3 linked regions of the Homo sapiens genome follow. Each later gene encodes a partner of the first gene's protein in a complex. Links are inferred from orthologs where the notes say so. Each region holds a gene or a part of one and is shown in the gene's direction. Other genes may lie near its edges.

Region 1 (7,040 bases):
GTGGCAAAATTCACCATTTTAAAGCGTAGAATGTAGCAGCATTTAGTACATTCACGGGGCCGTGCAACCGCACCACTTCTGTCTAGATCTGAAATATTTCCATCACTCCAAAAGGAAAACTACCTGCCACCGGGAAGTACAGGAATCCTCGCTTTTTAGTCTTACTTGGGAGAAAGAATTCTGCCAAGAGACTGATTTAGCCAACAAAGAGAATTTACTGAAGGCAAATAGAGAACAGAGAGTTTACCTAGAGAGAGACAGTACACTCTGAAGGATGAGGAGAGCAGGCTGCTGAAAGAACGTGAGCCAGCAGCACACCGAGAGTTTTGTGTTGTGTTTCTAATATGATGTCGCACTCTTTTGAAGTTCTTGCTTCTGTCTTTTTTTTTTTTTTGAGACAGTTTCGCTCTTGCCACCCAGGCTGGAGTGCAGTGGTGCGATCTCAGCTCACTGCAATCTTCACCTCCCAGGTTCAAGCGATTCTCTTGCCTCAGCCTCCCAAGTAGTTGGGATTACAGGCATGCACCACCAGGTCTGGCTAATTTTTGTATTTTTAGTAGAGATGGAGTTTCACCATGTTGGCCAGGCTGGTTTCAAACTCCTGACTGCAGGTGATCCTCCTGCCTCCCAAAGTGCTGGGATTACAGCCTGAGCCACCGTGCCCAGCCAGTTCTCTGCTTTTTGTGACCACAGGATAACTGCAACCTGATTCAGCCCCATTCCTGTGACCCCAGGCTGGCCCTGCCCATCTGGGACACCAGCTGACTCCACCTCACCCCCCACAACCTCTGGCTGACCCCGCCCATCCCCAGGACCCCAGGCCGACCCCAGTCCAGCCTCCAGTCATCCTGACCCCGGCTGACCCCCGCAGGGAGGAGGCGAAGGCCAAGATGGGCTTGCTGCGGGAGCGCGCGGAGAAAGAGGAGGCCCAGAGCGAGATGGAGGCGCAGGTCCTGCAGCGGCAGATCTTGCACCTGGAGCAGCTGCACCACTTCCTCAAGCTCAAGAACAACGACCGGCAGCCGGATCCCGATGTCCTGGAGAAGCGTGAAAAGCAGGGTGAGGCTGGGGCTGCTGCCTTTGCATCTCAAGGGCCTGGCCGCCCCTGGGGCACCTGCAGCACACCTTCGTGCCCCAGGTGGGACCACACTTCGCTCCCCCTCACCCAGGAGGTCTCTGTGTTGGAGGCCACCCAGGAGGCCGACCTGCTGTTCTCTCTTCCCCTAGCCGGGGAGGTGGCCGAGGGCGTCTGGAAGACCTCCCAGGAGAGGCTGGTGCTTTGCTACGAGGACGCCCTGAATAAACTGTCCCAGCTGATGGGGGAGAGTGACCCTGACCTGTTGGTGCAGAAGTATCTGGAGAGTGAGTGGGGCCCTGGGTGGAGGGAGGAGGCCCGGGACCCCGGCACCCCCTGAGTCCAGTGCAGGCTGGCCTCAGCTCTGGCCCTGGGGAACTCCTCCATCTGTGCTGGAGGAACAAGGCGTCATGCCTGGGACCCGCCGCCCGCGTCCACTGGCGTCTTACCGTGGCCCTGTCTCTGCCCCTCCCCACCCCCTCCTAACTCCTGGGCCTGGGGTCACTCTCCACATCCTTCCCTCAACCCTGTCCCTCTCTGTTTCTCTCCTTACCCATATCTACCGTTCTCCCCGCCTGCATCTCCCCATCTCCCTTGCTATTGCCGAGTCTCTGGCTTTCCCTCTCTGCCTTGCTGTGTATTTCTGTGTCCCACCTGCCGTATCTTCCCACACCTCTTTGTCTCTGTGACTCCTCTCTGTTCGTCTCTCTGCCTTGGTTTCTGTGTGGCCTTCCTCATCTTCACTTTCTTTGGCCTTCTGTATGCCTCTCTGTCTCTGTTCTCTCTGTCTCTGTTTCTCTGTCTCCCTCTCTCTGGGCCCCGCCTTGCCCAACTCTCCCAGTCGAGGAGCGCAACTTTGCTGAGTTCAACTTCATCAACGAGCAGAACTTGGAGCTGGAGCATGTGCAGGAAGAGATCAAGGAGGTGAGTGAGGCCTGCCCTCTCCATCTCCTCCTCTCCTCCCGGCCTCCCCGCCCCCTTCCCTCCCTCAGCCTGCCTCCTGCTTCTTCCTAGCTCCACACCCCCAACTCCCGAGGCTGCCATCTGGCCCAGCATTCAGCCCTGTCCCCACAGATGCAGGAGGCTTTGGTGAGCGCACGTGCCAGCAAGGATGACCAGCATTTGCTGCAGGAGCAGCAGCAGAAGGTGTTGCAGCAGCGCATGGACAAGGTGCACTCGGAGGCTGAGCGCCTTGAGGCCCGCTTCCAGGATGTGCGGGGACAGCTGGAGAAGCTCAAGGCTGGTGAGCACCCATGGGCGCCCCCTCCCGAGCCTGGCTTCTCCACTTGGAAGGACACCATCAGCCCGCGGGGCTTGGAGGCATTGCATGGACAACCTGGTTCACTTGCTTATCAGTTGCCCCATATCTGTCCATCTTTCCAACCAGGGTCTATCCCTCCAACTGTCCCATGTCCATCTATCCATCCATCATCTGTCCCTCCAACTGTCCTACACCCATCCATCCATCCATCTATCAATGCATCCATCCATCCATCTAGGGTTGATCCCTCCAACTGTCCCATATCCATCCATCCATCCATCCATCCATCCATCCATCCATCCATCCATTCAACGTCTGTCTCTCCAATTATCCTATATCCATCCATCCATTCAGAGTCTATCCCTTCAACTGTCCTATATCCATCATCCATTCAGGATCTATTCCTTCATCTGTCCTATATCTATCTCTCCATCCAGGGTCTATCCCTCCATTCTGTCCCATATCCATCTATCTATCCAGGGTCTGTTCCTTCATCTGTTCTATATCTATCTACCCATCCAGGACCTACCCCTCCATCTGTCCTATATCCATCCATCCATTCATCCATCCATCCATCCATTCATCCACCCATCCATCCATCCATCCAGGGTCTATTCCTCCAACTGTCCTGTATCCATCATTCATCCAGGATCTATTCCTTCATCTGTCCTATATCTATCTCTCCATCCAGGTTCTATACCTCCATCTGTCCCATATCCATCTATCTATCCAGGGTCTATTCCTTCATCTGTCCCATATCTATCCATCCAGGATCTACCCCTTCATCTGTCCTATATCCATCTGTCCGTATATCCATCCATCCATCCATCCATCCATCCATCCATCCATCCATCCATCCAGGATCTATTCCTCCAACTGTCCCATGTCCATCCATCCATGCAGGGTCTATCCCTCCAACTGTCCCATGTCCATCCATCCATCCAGGGTCTATCCCTCCATCTGTCCCATGTCCATCAATCCATCCATTGTCTATCTGTCCATCTGCCTCCAACAGCCCCACATCCATCTGTTCATCCATCTATCTGCAATGACATTTGACTTTTGTCTTCCTAGTCTTAGTCTTAGTTACCAAATTTCTTCTTAGTCTTAGTTACCAAATTTCTTCTTAGTCTTAGTTACCAAAAATGTTATTATTTGTAAAGAAAATGATGATAAAATATAATAGCAATGTTTATTATGTGTCATTCACTGTGCAAGGCACTTATGCATTATTCCACTTGTTTCACAAAACACTAAAAAACAGATGCTGTCCCTCCAACTGTCCCATATCCATCATCCACCCATCCATCCATCTACCCAGTATTCATCCATGGATCATCCATGTACATCTCTGTCTATAAATGCCTAGCAGTGGGACCGATGGGTCTTAGGGTAGGTATATGTTGATATTTATTAGAAAATGCCGAACAGTTTTCCACACTGGTCGCAAGATTTTATGCTCTCACCTATGCGAGCATATGGGAGTCCCCGATGATCCACACCTTTTCCACCACTTCCTAGTGTCAGCCATTTTTTATCTTGTTTTGTTTTTGAGATGCAGTCTTGCTCTGTCACCAGGCTGGAGTGCAATGGCATGATCTCGGCTCACTGCAACCTCCGCTTCCTGGGTTCAAGCGATTCTCCTGCCTCAGCCTCTCCAGTAGCTGGGACTACAGGTGTGCGCCACCACGCCCAGCTAATTTTTGTATTTTTAGTAGAGTCGGGGTTTCATCACGTTGGCTAGGATGGTCTCGATCTCTTGACCTCGTGATCTGCCCGCCTCGGCCTCCCAAAGTGCTGGGATTACAGGCGTGAGCCCCCGTGCCTGGCCGTCAGCCATTTTAATATTAGCCATCTAACGTGTGTGCCGTACTCTCTCTATTAATTTAATTGGCATTTCCCTGGTGACTAATAATATTGAGCATCGTATTGGCCATTCAGATGTTTTTGTAAAGTTCCTGTTCAATCTTGTGCACTTGTTTTTTTAAAAATTGGGTTTGTCTTGCTATAACTGAGTTGAAGGAGTTCTTTGTATATTCTAGATACTAGACTTTTGGTAAATATTTTCTCTTATACTGTAGCTTGCCTTTTCATTTTTTTTGGTGATGAACTGAAGTTTCTTAGTTTTGAGGATATCTAATTTATGAAATTTTCTTTTTGTAGTTAATGACTTTGTGGCCTGCCTAAGAAATTTTTGCCTGTCCTGAGGTTACAAAGGCATTATGCTGTGTTTTCTCCTAGAAGTTTCATTGTTTGAACTCCCACATTGAAGTCTGTGACTTATGACAAATTGATTTGCATTATGGTATGAGGTAGGGGTCTAGAGTTTCCTTTTTAAAAATTTTTTTAGATTTTTTTCATTTATTTATTTTTTGAGAGGAATTTCGCTCTTTTGCCCAGGCTGGAGTGCAGTGGCACAATCTCGGCTCACTGCAACCTCTGCCACCCAGGTTCAAGCAGTTCTGCCTCAGCCTCCTGAGTTGCTGGGATTACAGGTGCCCGCCACCACGCCCAACTAATTTTGGTATTTTTAGTAGAGACGGGGTTTCGCCATGTTGGCAGGCTGGTCTCAAACTCCTGACCTCAGGTGATCTGCCCGCCTCAGTATCCCAAAGTGCTGGGATTACATATGCATGAGCCACTGTGCCCGGCCCTTTTTTTTTTTAGAGATAGGATTTTACTATGTTGTCCAGGCTAGTCTTGAACTCCTGGACTCAAGTGATCCTCCTGTCTTGGACTCCCAAAGTGCTGGGATTATAGGCATGAGCCACCACTCCTGGCTGAGTTTCTTTTTTTTTTTTTTAATCCCTTCTGTGGGTATGTTGCATCCACCTGTGCATCCTTTTTTTCTATTATTATTATTATTTTTTAAAATTTGAGAAAGTCTCGCTCTGTTCCCCAGGTTGGAGTGCAGTGGCACGATCTCGGCTCACTGCAATCTCCCCCTCCTGGTTCAAGCGATTCTCCTGCCTCAGCCTCCCAGTAGCTGGGATTACAGGCACACACCACCACACCCAGCTAATTTTTGTATTTTTAGTGGAGGGGGGTTTTGCCATGTTGGTCAGGCTGGTCTCAAACTCCTGACTTGAGGTGATCCACCCGCCTTGGCTTCCCAAAGTGCTGGGATTACAGGTGTGAGCCACTGCGCCGGGCCTCATCTTTCTTATTTTTCAGGAAGTAGCCATGCAGAGCACTCAGGAGTCAGGCTGTCCTGTTTCTTTTCTCTTTTTTAAAACATTTATTGTTAGCTTTTATTTGTTTTTTTGAGATGGAATCTCACGCTGTCAGCCAGGCTGGAGAGCAGTGGTGTGATCTGGGCTTACTGCAACGTCCATCTCCCGGGTTCAAGCAATTCTCCTGCCTCAGCCTCTCCAGTAACTGGGATTACAGGCCTGCACTACCATGCCCGGCTAGTTTTTTTGTATTTTTAGTAGAGACAGGGTTTCACCATGGTGGCCAGGCTGGTCTCAAACTCCTGACCTCAAATGATCTGCCTGCCTTGGCTTCCCAAAGTGCTGGATTACAGGCGTGAGCCACTGCACCCAGCCTGTCCTGGGTTTGAATCTCAGCTCCACCAATTGTGAACCTTGGTGTGTGGCTTCCTCCTTCCGCTCTGGGAATGGGGATGGCAGTGCCTACTTTGCAGGGTTGTCATGAGAATTAGAAGGGATGACGGATGGAGAGAAAGGTGGGGGGTGGTGGGGAGCGAGCTGGAGAGCCTCCTCGGGGCATACCGTAGGAGCTCAGATATGGGCAGGTCCTCCTTCCTGCTGTCGTGATGGCTGATCCGAGCCCTGTGCTAGGTGATGTGGGCACAGTGGGGAGAGGCCCTGGAGGGGACTGACCTGCGCACTGGGCACTCATCACTCAGGGGCTAGGACAGAGGACGCCCAGGCACTGGGGGCGAGAGAAGGCCCTAACTCAGTCTGGGGTGCAAGACCATAATTTGTGGGGCCCAGTGCAGAATGAGGGGCCCCTTGTTAAAAAATTGCTGAGATTTTCAAGATAGGAAGAGCAGCAGCGTGTCAAGCCAAGTGCAGGCCCCTCACCACTGCCTGGATCTCACACTCATGAGGCTGGCTCTGCTGGGGTCACTGGGAAGGCTTCCTGGAGGCAGTGACACTTGAGGCTGACTTTGAAGGACAAGTCAGGGAGAGAGGGATGCACAGCAGTGCCGTCCCCCTGCCTGGCTGGCTGAGCTCGGGTGACTCCCTTTTGGTCTCTGAGCCTTGACCGCAGTCTCTGTAGAATGGGGCAGTGAGGACCTGAGTGGGGAGAGGGCTGGCACCCAGCTGGCGGTGCCAGATCCCTGACAACCGGCCCTCCATGACGCAGATATCCAGCTCCTCTTCACCAAGGCCCATTGCGACAGCAGCATGATCGATGACCTCCTTGGGGTCAAGACCAGCATGGGAGACCGGGACATGGGCCTCTTCCTGAGCCTCATTGAGAAGCGGCTGGTGGAGCTCCTGACAGTGCAGGCCTTCCTACATGCCCAGGTGGGAGACGGCAGGGAGCCGGGACAGGAGGCCGGTCTCGGGGGTGGCCCAGCTGACCGCAGGCTCCCACACTCTCCAGAGCTTCACCTCCCTGGCCGACGCTGCCCTCCTAGTGCTGGGCCAGAGCCTGGAGGACCTTCCGAAGAAGATGGCCCCACTTCAGCCCCCTGACACTCTGTGAGGCGCAGGGCAGGAGGGACGCAGA
Region 2 (7,040 bases), on another chromosome or scaffold:
CTGGTTTCAAAATAAATTTTCCCCAACTTCCGCCCATACTTGGTATTTGAGCTTTTATATTATCAAGACCAGGCAATAACCCTTCCACCTACATTCTCAAATGGGGATTGGAACACAAATAATTAACTCGGTATTTATAACCATGGTCCTTTATACAATAATGTGTATGAGCAAGTATCTGTTTGTGTGTATATCCTTTAAATAAAAATTTCCTTCCTCCAAACTATTACTGAATAGTTGCATGTTAATTTTTACGTAATCCTCAAGAAGAGCCATATTGGGTGCTAAAATATGCTTTAAAGCTTTTTTATTGGAAAACTGGTGACTCTAGTTTCCAAAATCTGGCTTATGAATTAATGAAGGCTAAACTGAAATGAAAATTGTTACCTAATTCTCATGAATCTGACATCTATTTCCAGGGAAAAGAAGTTGTAAATCTCGTAAATGCCATGGTAAAAATACTGAGAAAAAGTTACCATTCTTTAGTCTTACCATTCTTATTTTGAGACGTATTTCTACTAGCCTTGTAGAGTTTAGAATCCGACACCACCATCATTATTCTAGTAACTTGGCTAATACTATCGTATTTTTTTCCCTAAACATGGGAATTCCTGTTTGGAGGGTATGCTGCTTTTTTTATTTCTATTAAGTTAAGGGTTCATGAATCTCAAAACAGGAGAGTCTTCTATTGACAATTACCTATTTGATGTCTTTGACGTTGTTTGTCTGTAAACTTATTGCAAAATTTAAGTTAGAACTTAAAGATTAAGGGTTCATTTTTGTTATATCTATTTTATTATTTCAGTTAATAAATTTGAAGTGAACTGTCTTATAAAGCTTTTTTATGACTTGGTGGGAGGAGTAGAGAGGCAAGGTCTGGTTGTTGGACTGGATCGTAATGCATTTCGAAACATCCTGCATGTGACATTTGGAATGACAGATGACATGATTATGGACAGAGGTAAGAGACACACAAGATTCAAATTAGCCAAATCCAGCCATAACTGAAAAAAAAAGGGTTTGGTGCTTGGACATCCTCTTGGTAGGAAGCTTAGTGTTTTGCATTCCCAGTGTCATTGGAATATACAAATTTAATTTTGAGAAGATCATAGAAAAGGAGGTAATATTGGCTTTATTTTGTGTATTTAAGAAGAAGACAAAGTCATGTTGACATCTTTCTCTTACCTTATATCAGAAAACCTAAAACATTTCGATTTCCACTTAATAAACATAATAAATAGAATAGTTTTAAAAGGACATTTACATTCTTTACATCATAGAAGATATTTCAGTGACAAGATATAATTCTATGCATCAAGTAATGACTTGAGTAACAAAACTATTAAGTATTTTATTTATATTCATATATTTATCTAATATGACCAACATATTTTATAGCAACATATTTATTATTAAATAATGATTAATATACTTAGACATTGAGAATTGTATTTGTTCCCACAAAAACATTTTAAAAATTGAATGTTTAATAAAAGAGTTTCATGATATTATGATGTCTTAGTTTCCTCTTTCGTCAAATGAGAATATTGGACTTCACAAGCTGAAGTGTTCTCTTAATTTTAAAAGTGAGTGATGCCAATGTAGATACTTTACTGAGAGTTATTATGCAGGACAGGTGTTCCATTTAACCTCTCTCCCTTTAGTATTCCGAGGTTTTGATAAAGATAATGATGGCTGTGTAAATGTATTGGAGTGGATTCATGGATTATCACTGTTTCTTCGAGGATCTTTGGAAGAAAAAATGAAATGTAAGATTGCAGGTTGTCCTATTGGTTCGTACATTATGAATAACATATCTAAAGCACTTAAATCAGTGTCTTTCAACCAAGACAGTAAAGTGGGTTTGTTGGTTGGCTGGTTAGTTGGTTTGAATCCCACTAACCTATTTTATGGAATGAATTCAAGTCAATAAAATATGAAAGAAAGTTAATAAAAAGAAAACTCAAGTGATTCTGAGGAGTAATTTATGCGAAGGAAGACACCATAGGCATTACTACATATGCTAATTATGTACATATACATTTATATGTTAAGCATTTGACAGATTTCATTACTTGAATTGTAACCATAAAACTAGAGAATATTGATTCAAGTGTTCTTATTCTTAATTAACTCTCAATTAATTCTGATGAACTCTGCTTATGAGCCATATTTCAATCAGTTTTCCAAGAGTTTCAAGGTGAAGATATTCAAGTTACTGTTCCTTGGTATGCTTTTTCATAATTGAGAATCAGGAAATATTTTCTAAGGATTATTGTATATATCCTAGTATACGTTGACACTTACAATGCAAATCAGGCTGCACTAAGACCTGTGGGTACAGCATCAAGATAGAACTTGGCCCTGAAAAGTTTATCAGAGAAAATATTACCTTACTGATAGCATCAAATTCATGATTTGTTATTTTCTTAAAAAGATTGCTTTGAAGTGTTTGATTTGAATGGTGACGGATTCATTTCAAAGGAGGAAATGTTTCACATGTTGAAGAACAGCCTTCTCAAACAGCCATCTGAGGAAGACCCTGATGAAGGAATTAAAGATTTGGTTGAAATAACACTGAAGAAAATGGTAAATATGGGTAATGTCAAGTTTTTTATTAAAATTTGTGGGCCAGATATGGGCTAGAAATAAGAATTCAAATTATTATAATTTTCAGTTCTCTGCTTGCTTAAATAAAACACATAAATTATGCTCCTCAACATATTAATAGTTCTTTTCAGTTTCACCACCTAACCTCTTATTTTTCTAGCACTTTTTTTTTTTTTGAGACAGGGTCTCGCTCTGTCTCCCAGACTAGAGTGCAGTAGCATGATCACAGCTCACTGCATCATCAAACTCTTGGGCTCAAGCAATTCTCCTGCCTCAGCCTCCCAAGTATCTGGGACTACAGGCGCATACCACCATGCCCAGCTAATTTTTTTTTTTAATAGAGATGAGGTCTCACTATGTTGCCCAGTATGGTCTCAAACTTCTGGCCTCAAGGAATCACCCCGCCTTAGCCTCCCAAAGTGCTATGATTACAGGCCTGAGCCACCATCCCCAGCCTAGCACATTTTTTTAAATTAACACTTGACTATGAAAAGAGCATGTATTTGCAGTAATCATTTTACGTGTTGCCTAACATGTTTCTCATTCCCCTAGGATCATGACCATGATGGGAAGCTGTCTTTTGCAGACTATGAACTGGCTGTGAGAGAAGAGACTCTTCTACTGGAGGCCTTTGGGCCATGTCTTCCTGATCCAAAGGTATTGATATGACTTTCCCTGAACGGTAATCAAAGTAGAATGTAGAACAACCCAGGACTTCTTGATTTAATGGGTAGTGGATCAGACAAATCCTGTCCACCAAGAAAGAATACCTTTTAAATACAGAAAGCCCACTGAATAACCTGCTGATTCATTTCTTGGTACTAGTGTGACCCAGTGCTGTGTTTCATTCATTAACTCATTCATGTCAGAAACAATTAATGAGGTTTAATGTGTGCCAGAAGCACAGATGAAAGGCTCAGTGATTTTACTCAAGGGCTCATATTTTCCAGTGAAAATAATTACACAAGAGTATGATACATATTATTATAATGATACTTAATTACTTGTATGTTCTTCATCAATGCCAGGCAACGTTGTAAACACTAAGCCTCATATTGCCTCATTTAATCCTCATAATAACCCTGTGAAGTAGGTAGTAATATTAGCCTCATTTTCCAGATGAGGAAACCAAGGCTTGGAGAGTTTAGGCACCTTGTCCAAGTTTACTCACTTATTAGTGGAATACCCTGGGTACCCTGGTGCCAGAGTCATAGAGATATGTGTAGAGTGTTGTGGAACTTGAGAAGAGGTCATCTAAACAGCTGTATGGGAGGACTGGTAAATGACTGGTAGGGCAGGAAGCTTATCAGAGTAACTGGTTTTCAAAGGACAAAATAGCCAGGTCAGATGGGGAAAAATAATCTGAGCAATGGGTGATGTATGCACAAAAGAGAGACAGAGAGAGATAGAGAGAGAGAAAGAAAGAGATGGAACAAGAGATGCAAATGCATCTGCACTGGACGAGGTTTTGGTGTGCTCTGAGGCTGGTGATGAGGCTGCAGAAGCACAGCTTGTGGAGCTTGGAGCTCAGATTTAGTCTTGAAGGTGATGAGGCATCCCTGGAAGATTGAGGCAGGCAGTGTGATGTGATATAGAAACAGTATCACTCTTCCCAGCCCTAGCATGTGTCTCCTGCCGCCTACTCAACATGTCCACTTAGATCTCCTCAACACATTTTTGACTTTTCCCCAAAACTCACCCATCCCCCAGTCTTCCCTATCTCAATAAGTGGCAACCACATACGCCCAGTTGTTCAGTCAAAACCTAGGGGCCATCTTTAATTTCTCTCTTTTAACACTGTTAGCTACACCTCCAAAATATGTCCTTGAATATAGCCTCTTCTCCTCACATCTGTTTGCCACCACTCTAAGTTAAGCCACTGTTATATGTTACCTAGCCTAGATTGTTAGCTTTCTGGCTTCCACTGTCATCCCCTACTGACTTTTCTCAACAATGTCCAGTATGTTTAAAATGCAAATGCTGCCAGGCCCCTCCCATGCTCAAAACCCCCCAGAGGGTTCTGAAGTGGACCCAGTGGGCCATTTCCCTCTCTCCACCCACATGTCCTATCATCTCCCTTCTCTCTTGCTGCTGGAGCCACAGCCTCTGGCTCATGTGCCTCCTCCATGCCTGTGCACTTGCTGCTGCCTCTGTCCAGAAGCCCTTTCCCCAGACCCTCCTGGGCCTCATTTTCTCACTTCATCCAGTCTCTGCTGCAATGCCACTTCCTCACAGAGCCCTGTCTTGACCATCTTAACAATCTTCCCTGTTCATCCCCCAGCCCTTCTTTCTTTCTTTTACTTAGCAGCTCTTTTTATTACCTAGGTATATCTGTCTCGCCTTGTACATGTCAGCTCACTGAGGCCAGGAACTTAGTCTTTGTTTCACTGTGTTTCCCCATACCCTGTGTGTAGCACATGGTGTGTGTCTAGTAATGAGAGATGGATGGATGGATGGATGGATGGATGGATGGATGGATGGATGAGTGGATAGATGAATGGGTGAGGTGGATGGGTGGGTGGGTGGGTGGATGGATGGATGGATGGAAGGATGGATGGGTGATGTGGGTGTGTGGGTGGGTAGATGGATGGGTGAATGGGTGAATGGATGAATGGATAGTTGAGGTGAGTGGGTAGATGGATGGATGGGTGTGTGGATGGATGAATGGATGGATGGATGGATGGATGGATGGATGGATGGATGAGTGGATGGATGAGGTGGGTGGATAGGTGAAGTGGGTGATTGGTTATATGGATGGTTGGATGCGTGGGTGGGTGAATGGATGGGTGGGTGGATAGATAGATAGATAGATAGATAGATAGATAGATTGATAGATGCATGGATAGATGGGTGGATGCATGGATGGACAATGGATGGATGGATGGATGGATGGATGATGAACTGGGTTGATGGGTGAGGTGGGTGGGTAAGTGGGTAGATGGATGGATGGATGGGTGAGGTGAGTAGATGGATGGGTGAGGTAGGTAGGTGTGTGGGTAGATGGATGGGTGGATGGATGGATGGATGCATGGATGGATGAGGTGGGTGGATGGGTGAGGTGGGTGGGTGGGTAGATGGATGGGTAGATAAAAAGATGAGTGGGTGGGTGGATGGACGGATGGATGGTGAGGTGAATGTGCGGGTAGGTAGATGGATGGATAGATGGGTGGATGGATGGATTGGATGGATGGATGGATGGATGGATGGATGGATGAATGGATGGATGAGATGGATTGATGGGTGAGGTAGGTGGGTGGGTAGATGGATGAGTGGATGGATGGATGAGGTGAGCAGATGGATGGGTGAGGTAGGTGAATAGATGGATGGGCAGATGAAATGATGAGTGGGTGGATGGGTGGATGGATGAGGTGAATGGCTGTGTAGGTACATGGATGGATAGGTGGGTGGATGGATGGATGGATGGATGGATAGATAGATGATGGATGGTTGGATGGATGGATGGATGGATGGATGAAGTGAATGGGAGGGTGGGTAGATAGATGGATGGATGAGTGGATGGATGGGTGGATGGGGTGGGTGGGTGGATGGATGGATGGATGGATGGATGGATGGATGGATGGATGGAGTGGGTGGGTAGATGGATGGGTGGATGGATGGATGGATGGGTGAGGTGGGTGGATGGGCGAGGTAGGTGGGTGGGTAGATGGATGGGTGGATGGATTAATGGATGAGGTGGATGGATGGTGAGGTGGGTGGGTGGGTCTCAGAAGTGCCTGATGGGGAGCTCTGGATCTCTCCATCTCCTCAGGAGCTATTTCATTCATTTACCTTTATCTTTATACCACATCTTCAATCTCTTCCCTCTCTAGTGAAACCTTCCGATTAGAATTTTATTATTTATTTATTTATTTATTTATTTATTTATTTATTTTTGAGACGGAGTTTTGCTCTTGTTGCCCAGGCTGCAGTGCAATGGCACAATCTCGGCTCACCGCAACCTCCGCCTCCCAGGTTCAAGTGATTCTCCTGCCTCAGCCTCCCGACTAGCTGGGATTAGAGGCATGCGCCACCACGCCCGGATAATTTTATATTTTTTAGTAGAGACGTGGTTTCTCCATGTTGGTCAGGCTGGTCTCGAACTCCCGACCTCAAGTGATCAGCTTGCCTCGGCTTCCTAAAGTGCTGGGATTACAGGCATGAGCCACCATGCCTGGCTCCCATTAGAATTTTAAAAGATTCAAAACTGTCCCATCTGAAAAGCAAAATGAAAGAATGAGAGGAAGAAGGAAAGAAAAGGAGAGAACTTACCTTAATTTCACACTTATTACTTCTGTTTCTTATATAATGGCTTTCCTTCTTAAAACCTAGCTTCTTGAAAGAATTGTCCAGATTTAATATCTAACTACTATCACTTCTTCCTATCTACCCCTGAATCTGCTATTGCAAGGTCACCCTCCCACCTTGTGAAT
Region 3 (5,057 bases), about 37 Mb from region 1:
TGTATATATACATATGTACATATACACATATACACATATGTACATATACACATATATACATATATACACATATGTACATATACACATATACATATATACACATATACACATATATACACATATGTATATATGCACATATGTATATATACACATATATACATATACACATATGTACATATACACATATATACATATATACACATATGTACATATACACATATATACATATATACACATAGGTACATATACACATATATACATATATACACATAGGTATATATACACATATATACATATATACACATAGGTATATATACACATATATACATATATACACATAGGTATATATACACATATATACATATATACACATAGGTATATATACACATATATACATATATACACATAGGTATATATACACATATATACATATATACACATAGGTATATATACACATATATACATATATACACATAGGTATATATACACATATATACATATATACACATAGGTATATATACACATATATACATATATACACATAGGTATATATACACATATATATTTATACACATAGGTATATATACACATATATACATATATACACATAGGTATATATACACATATATACATATATACATATATATACATATATACATATATATATGGATTTTTTTTTGAGACACGGTCTCTGTCGCTCAGACTAATTATAGCTCACTGCAGTCTCGACCTCCTGGGCTCAAGTGATCCTCTCACCTCAGCCTCCCAAGTAGCTGGGACTTCAGGCGCCCCACCACGCCCTGCTAATTTTGGTGTTTTTTGTAGAGACGGGGTCTCGCCGTGTTGTCCAAGCTGGTCCCGAACCCCTGGGCTCAAACAATCCTCCCGCCTCAGCCTCCTAAAGTACTGGAATTAAAGGCGTGAGCCACAGCCACCGCCCCCGCGCCCGACCTTGTCCCACTTTCTTGACACCTGCCCGGGTGCCTTTATCTGGCCCCAAGCTTTTGCCCTCTCCCTTCCCTCCAGTTTGAGCCCTGTTCCTCGCGGGCCCCTATCTGGATCCCCCTCCCCGGCCTCCTTCCCAAGCGCTGTCCACCAGCTGACCCTGGCTCTGACCTCAACCCACGAGCAGACCCACCGCGAGCACCTGCTGCTACAGTCCGACGACACCATCCAGGACAGCCTGCATGCCAAGGAGGAGGAGCTGCGGCAGCGCTGGAGCATGTACCAGATGGAGGTGATCTTTGGCAAGGTCAAGGACGCCACTGGCACTGACGAGACGCACGTGAGTTCTGCCCGCAGCCCTCTCCGCCGCGCCCCCCCCCCACCCCAGACGGGCCCCAGGGGTGCCTAAGCCGGTGAAACCGACACACCCTGTCTCCCCTCTCTGCCAGGTCGGTTATTCAGCTCACAAACCTGCTCCTTTCTTGAAAAACATCCCTTCCCCCTCCAGCTACCGTTCAGTTTTTCTGCTGCCCTTCGCAGCAAAACCCCTAGGAGCTGTCTACACTCGCCGTCATTTCTACACTCGCCTTCCGTTCTCTCTTGCACCATGCTAACTCCTTTGCCATGCCAGCTCTAGGAGAACTGGGAGTTTCGTCTCTTGTTCTGTCTCCAGTGTCTGTAACATGGTCTGGGACCCAGTGGACCGCCCAGTACCATCCTCAGATCCTGGCAAGTGGGGTCCCTGCGCCGGGTCCCTCACTGTAAAGTCTTCCTTGCATTATTCTAAGACCGCTGTGTCCCCCTTGGGTCCTGGTTCCCGCCGGTGAACACTGGACCCCAACCCTGTTTCTCCCCTCTGGGTGTCCGCCAACCTGCTGCTCCTCCGATGGGGCCGACCCCTGATGACTTCCGGGACTCCCACCTATAGGAGTACACCTATGGGGTCATCTGGGGCACTGAGGCGCAGCCCCTTTCCAGATGTGGGCCTTGTGAGCGGATGGCTCCGAAGACGGGCGGTATTTCCTGCGGAATCGGGCGAGATTCACGGCCAGAAATTGATGGCACTTTGATTTTGGAAAGAAGCTATGCTCGCCTCTCCAGTTGCCCCCGAGTTTGGGCTGACTCAAATTCCTTATATAGGCCAGAAAGGGCCCCGCAAAAATGATATATCCAGGGCTGCTCACCCTTGAAGCAACCCTGCGTCCAACCCACAGTGTCCCCATACATTGCTGTGCAAAAGGCGCCAGCTCAGGCCACCTGTCCTGCGTGCGAGGGTTCGCAGGGTGGGGGAGAGGAGGTGGAGCGCCCCTACGCTCCCTAGGCCCTGGCTCTGACTGGGGCTGGGTGGCCCGCAGTCGTTGGTGCGGCGGTTCCTGGCCCAGGGCGACACCTTCGCGCAGTTGGAGACGCTCAAGAGCGAGAACGAGCAGACGTTGGTGAGGCTGAAGCAGGAGAAGCAACAACTGCAGCGGGAGCTGGAAGACCTCAAGTACTCGGGGGAGGCCACGCTGGTGAGGTGAGGCACCGGGGCTCTGGGGAGGGCGGCGGGGCGGGCTGAGCCCCCGGGGTGACCTCCCGGCTCCCTGCAGCCAGCAGAAACTGCAAGCCGAGGCGCAGGAGCGTCTCAAGAAGGAGGAGCGGCGGCACGCCGAGGCCAAGGACCAGCTGGAGCGCGCCTTGCGGGCGATGCAAGTGGCCAAGGACAGCCTGGAGCACCTGGCCAGCAAGCTGATCCACATCACTGTGGTAGGCCCCGCCCAGGGGAAGCCCCGACAGGCCCTCCTGGGACCGCAGAGGCGCAGCCACGAAGCGGGGTTCCTGCCACACCAGCTTGCCCGAGGGAACGTGGCCTGCCACATCCTCTGTCCCGGACGTCAGAGGCCCCGCCCACAGGGGAAGCCCCACCCCATTCCTCAGAGTCCCCGCCCCACCTCCCTGGGGAAGCTCTCACTCCCCAAGGAAGCCCAAGACGTCAGAGACCCTGTCCCGTCTCAAGCTCCGCCTCCAAGGGAAAGAAGTCCCACCCTGTCCCCGAAAAGCTCGGAGACCTATCTGCAGTTCTGGAGCAGCCCGAGACAGAAGACCTATCCTGCCCGCAGCAGAGGGCCATTTCTTCAGGAGGCCATCCCACAATGGCCTCCCTCGAATCCTTACTGTTCCCAAGAGGCCTCCCCGAAACCTTTACATATAGAGTTAGAGTTCAGAGGCTCCCCCATCACAGACGTGGCCTTGACCTAAGTCCCCGCCCCCAATGGCTAGGATCGACCCTGCAGGTGGGCCCTTACCTCCTAGGCCCCGCCCCCGAAAGAAAAGCCCCGCCCCTGGGTGGAGCCTTCCAAGAGGCCCCACCCCTCTCGGCTGACCCGGCTCTACCCTGGCCGCAGGAGGACGGCCGCTTCGCGGGAAAGGAGCTGGATCCCCAGGCAGATAACTATGTGCCAAACCTGCTGGGCCTCGTGGAGGAAAAGCTGCTGAAACTGCAGGCGCAGCTCCAGGGCCACGACGTGCAGGAGATGCTGTGCCACATCGCTAACCGCGAGGTGCCCTGCAGCCATGGGGCAGAGCTCCAGAGATCTAGGAGTAGGGCTGGGTCGGAAAACCAGGGAACCGGGGGCAACTTCGGGAGACCAGATTGCAGGCTGATCAGCCAGGAAGGGGTCTCGGGGACAACGGGCGAGGTTTGACGAGCCAGGGGTGAGCCCGAGCCACGAGGGAAGAAACCAGAAGAGGTGCAGGCGGGTCCTGTGAGGCTAGAGGACGCGGCTGGGGTATCCGGATGGGGAGAGGCCTAGTGGCAGGGCCCCAGAGACCAGGGGCGGACCTGAGTGATGAGGGGGTGAAGCTGGGTATCAAGGTGCCTGCTTAAGGAGGGATGGGAGTGGGCAGTGGTCTCCAGTTGGAACTAGGGCATATCTCGGAATGGGGTAGGGAGGAGGGGGAACGTGACTTCTCGGTGGCCCCTGGCCCCGCCCACCTTCCTCTCTCGCTTCCCATCCCCGCTTAGTTCCTCGCCAGCTTAGAGGGAAGGCTGCCCGAATACAACACCCGCATCGCCCTGCCCCTTGCCACTTCCAAGGACAAGTTTTTTGGTCAGTATGGGTGGGGGGATGAAGGGGTGCGGTTGGGGCCCCAAGCTGGGTAGCAGGAGGTTGTCAGATACCCTGTTCAGGGCCAAGGTGGGGGTGGAGTGGGGTGGTAAAGGGAAGGGGAGCCAGGGATGGGGACCTGGATCCCACATCGCTCCCTGCTCATCCCCCCACCCCCCTTAGACGAAGAGAGTGAGGAGGAGGACAACGAGGTAGTGACCCGCGCATCACTCAAGATCCGTTCCCAGAAATTAATCGAAAGTCACAAGAAGCACCGTCGCTCTCGGAGGTCCTAGACTCGTCCTGACACCCACCAGGCGGCCCCCTTCGGAGCCCCCGATCCCTCCGGGTCTAGCGCAGGCCCCACGGGGCCCCTTCAGGGGCTGAACGCGGCCCGGACCGGGAACGGAGGCGGCCAGCGGCGCCCGGAGGGGAGGAAGGGGCCGGGCCAGACGTTCCCACAGTAAATCTCCCCAGCTGGGTCCGCCCCGGCCTCAGAGTTGCGCAATAAATGTTACCGACCATGCCCCTGGGTATTCATCTGTTTTTGACCCTGCACCACCCAAGAGACGGCTGTCCCTGAAAACCCAGGGCCACAGACTGCCTCCTCCAACCTGGGTCATGATGACTCCCATCAGCTAGTGACGCAGATGGAGCTTAAAAATGGGAGATGGCCCGATGTAGTGGTTTTATGCCTGTAATCCCAGTATTTTGGGAGGCTGAGTTGGGAGGATCACTTGAGTCCAGGAGCTCCAGGCTGCAGTGAGCTATGATCGTGCTACTGCACTCCAGCCTGGGCCACAGAGCCAGACCCTGTCTCAATAAATAAAATAAGGGCGGGGTGCAGTGGCTCATTCATACCTATATTCCCAGCACTTTGGGAGGCTGAGCTGGGTGTGTCGCTTGAGCCCAGGGGTTCCAGACTAGCCTGGGCAACATGGTGAAAACCAGTTTTTACCAAAAAAAAAAAAAAAAAAAAAAAAAAAAAAAAAAAAGCTGAGCATGGTGGCATATGCCTGTAGTCCC

The links.
Region 2: ODAD1 (region 1) and CLXN share a complex: the UniProt entries of both Homo sapiens proteins name them as parts of the outer dynein arm-docking complex.
Region 3: the proteins of ODAD1 (region 1) and ODAD3 are in contact, whole or in part, in a cryo-EM structure (PDB 9CPB), measured with the Bos taurus proteins. The link is inferred for Homo sapiens from one-to-one orthologs. Residues at the interface, in XP_024834988.1 of Bos taurus: Leu31, Gln32, Gln34, Cys35, Met38, Glu41, Arg42, Tyr45, Val49, Arg52, Ile53, Gln56, Leu57, Glu59, Ile60, Leu63, Glu64, Val66, Arg67, Leu70, Arg71, Gln73, Ile74, Ala77, Gln78, Asp86, Arg89, Leu90, Ser92, Met93; in NP_001095517.1 of Bos taurus: Gln69, Leu73, Lys76, Ile77, Leu79, Leu80, Asp83, Arg84, Phe87, Tyr88, Thr91, Asn94, Ile95, Asn98, Gln99, Thr101, Ile102, Leu105, Arg106, Glu108, Thr109, Leu112, Gln113, Gln115, Leu116, Leu119, Gly122, Asp123, Val126, Ala129.

Annotation. Positions count from the first base shown.
Region 1 is NC_000019.10:48,297,972-48,305,011, reverse strand, and holds part of ODAD1 (outer dynein arm-docking complex subunit 1), read left to right. Parts: intron 1-871; coding exon 872-1,059; intron 1,060-1,227; coding exon 1,228-1,362; intron 1,363-1,916; coding exon 1,917-1,999; intron 2,000-2,149; coding exon 2,150-2,318; intron 2,319-6,671; coding exon 6,672-6,835; intron 6,836-6,914; coding exon 6,915-7,012; intron 7,013-7,040. UniProt on the Homo sapiens protein: Component of the outer dynein arm-docking complex (ODA-DC) that mediates outer dynein arms (ODA) binding onto the doublet microtubule. Involved in mediating assembly of both ODAs and their axonemal docking complex onto ciliary microtubules.
Region 2 is NC_000008.11:48,725,269-48,732,308, reverse strand, and holds part of CLXN (calaxin), read left to right. Parts: intron 1-805; coding exon 806-961; intron 962-1,664; coding exon 1,665-1,769; intron 1,770-2,437; coding exon 2,438-2,589; intron 2,590-3,162; coding exon 3,163-3,267; intron 3,268-7,040. UniProt on the Homo sapiens protein: Component of the outer dynein arm-docking complex (ODA-DC) that mediates outer dynein arms (ODA) binding onto the doublet microtubule. Seems to regulate the assembly of both ODAs and their axonemal docking complex onto ciliary microtubules.
Region 3 is NC_000019.10:11,420,105-11,425,161, reverse strand, and holds the end of ODAD3 (outer dynein arm-docking complex subunit 3), read left to right. Parts: intron 1-1,132; coding exon 1,133-1,285; intron 1,286-2,300; coding exon 2,301-2,461; intron 2,462-2,534; coding exon 2,535-2,691; intron 2,692-3,329; coding exon 3,330-3,485; intron 3,486-3,949; coding exon 3,950-4,034; intron 4,035-4,214; coding exon 4,215-4,327; 3' UTR 4,328-4,557; downstream 4,558-5,057. UniProt on the Homo sapiens protein: Component of the outer dynein arm-docking complex (ODA-DC) that mediates outer dynein arms (ODA) binding onto the doublet microtubule. Involved in mediating assembly of both ODAs and their axonemal docking complex onto ciliary microtubules.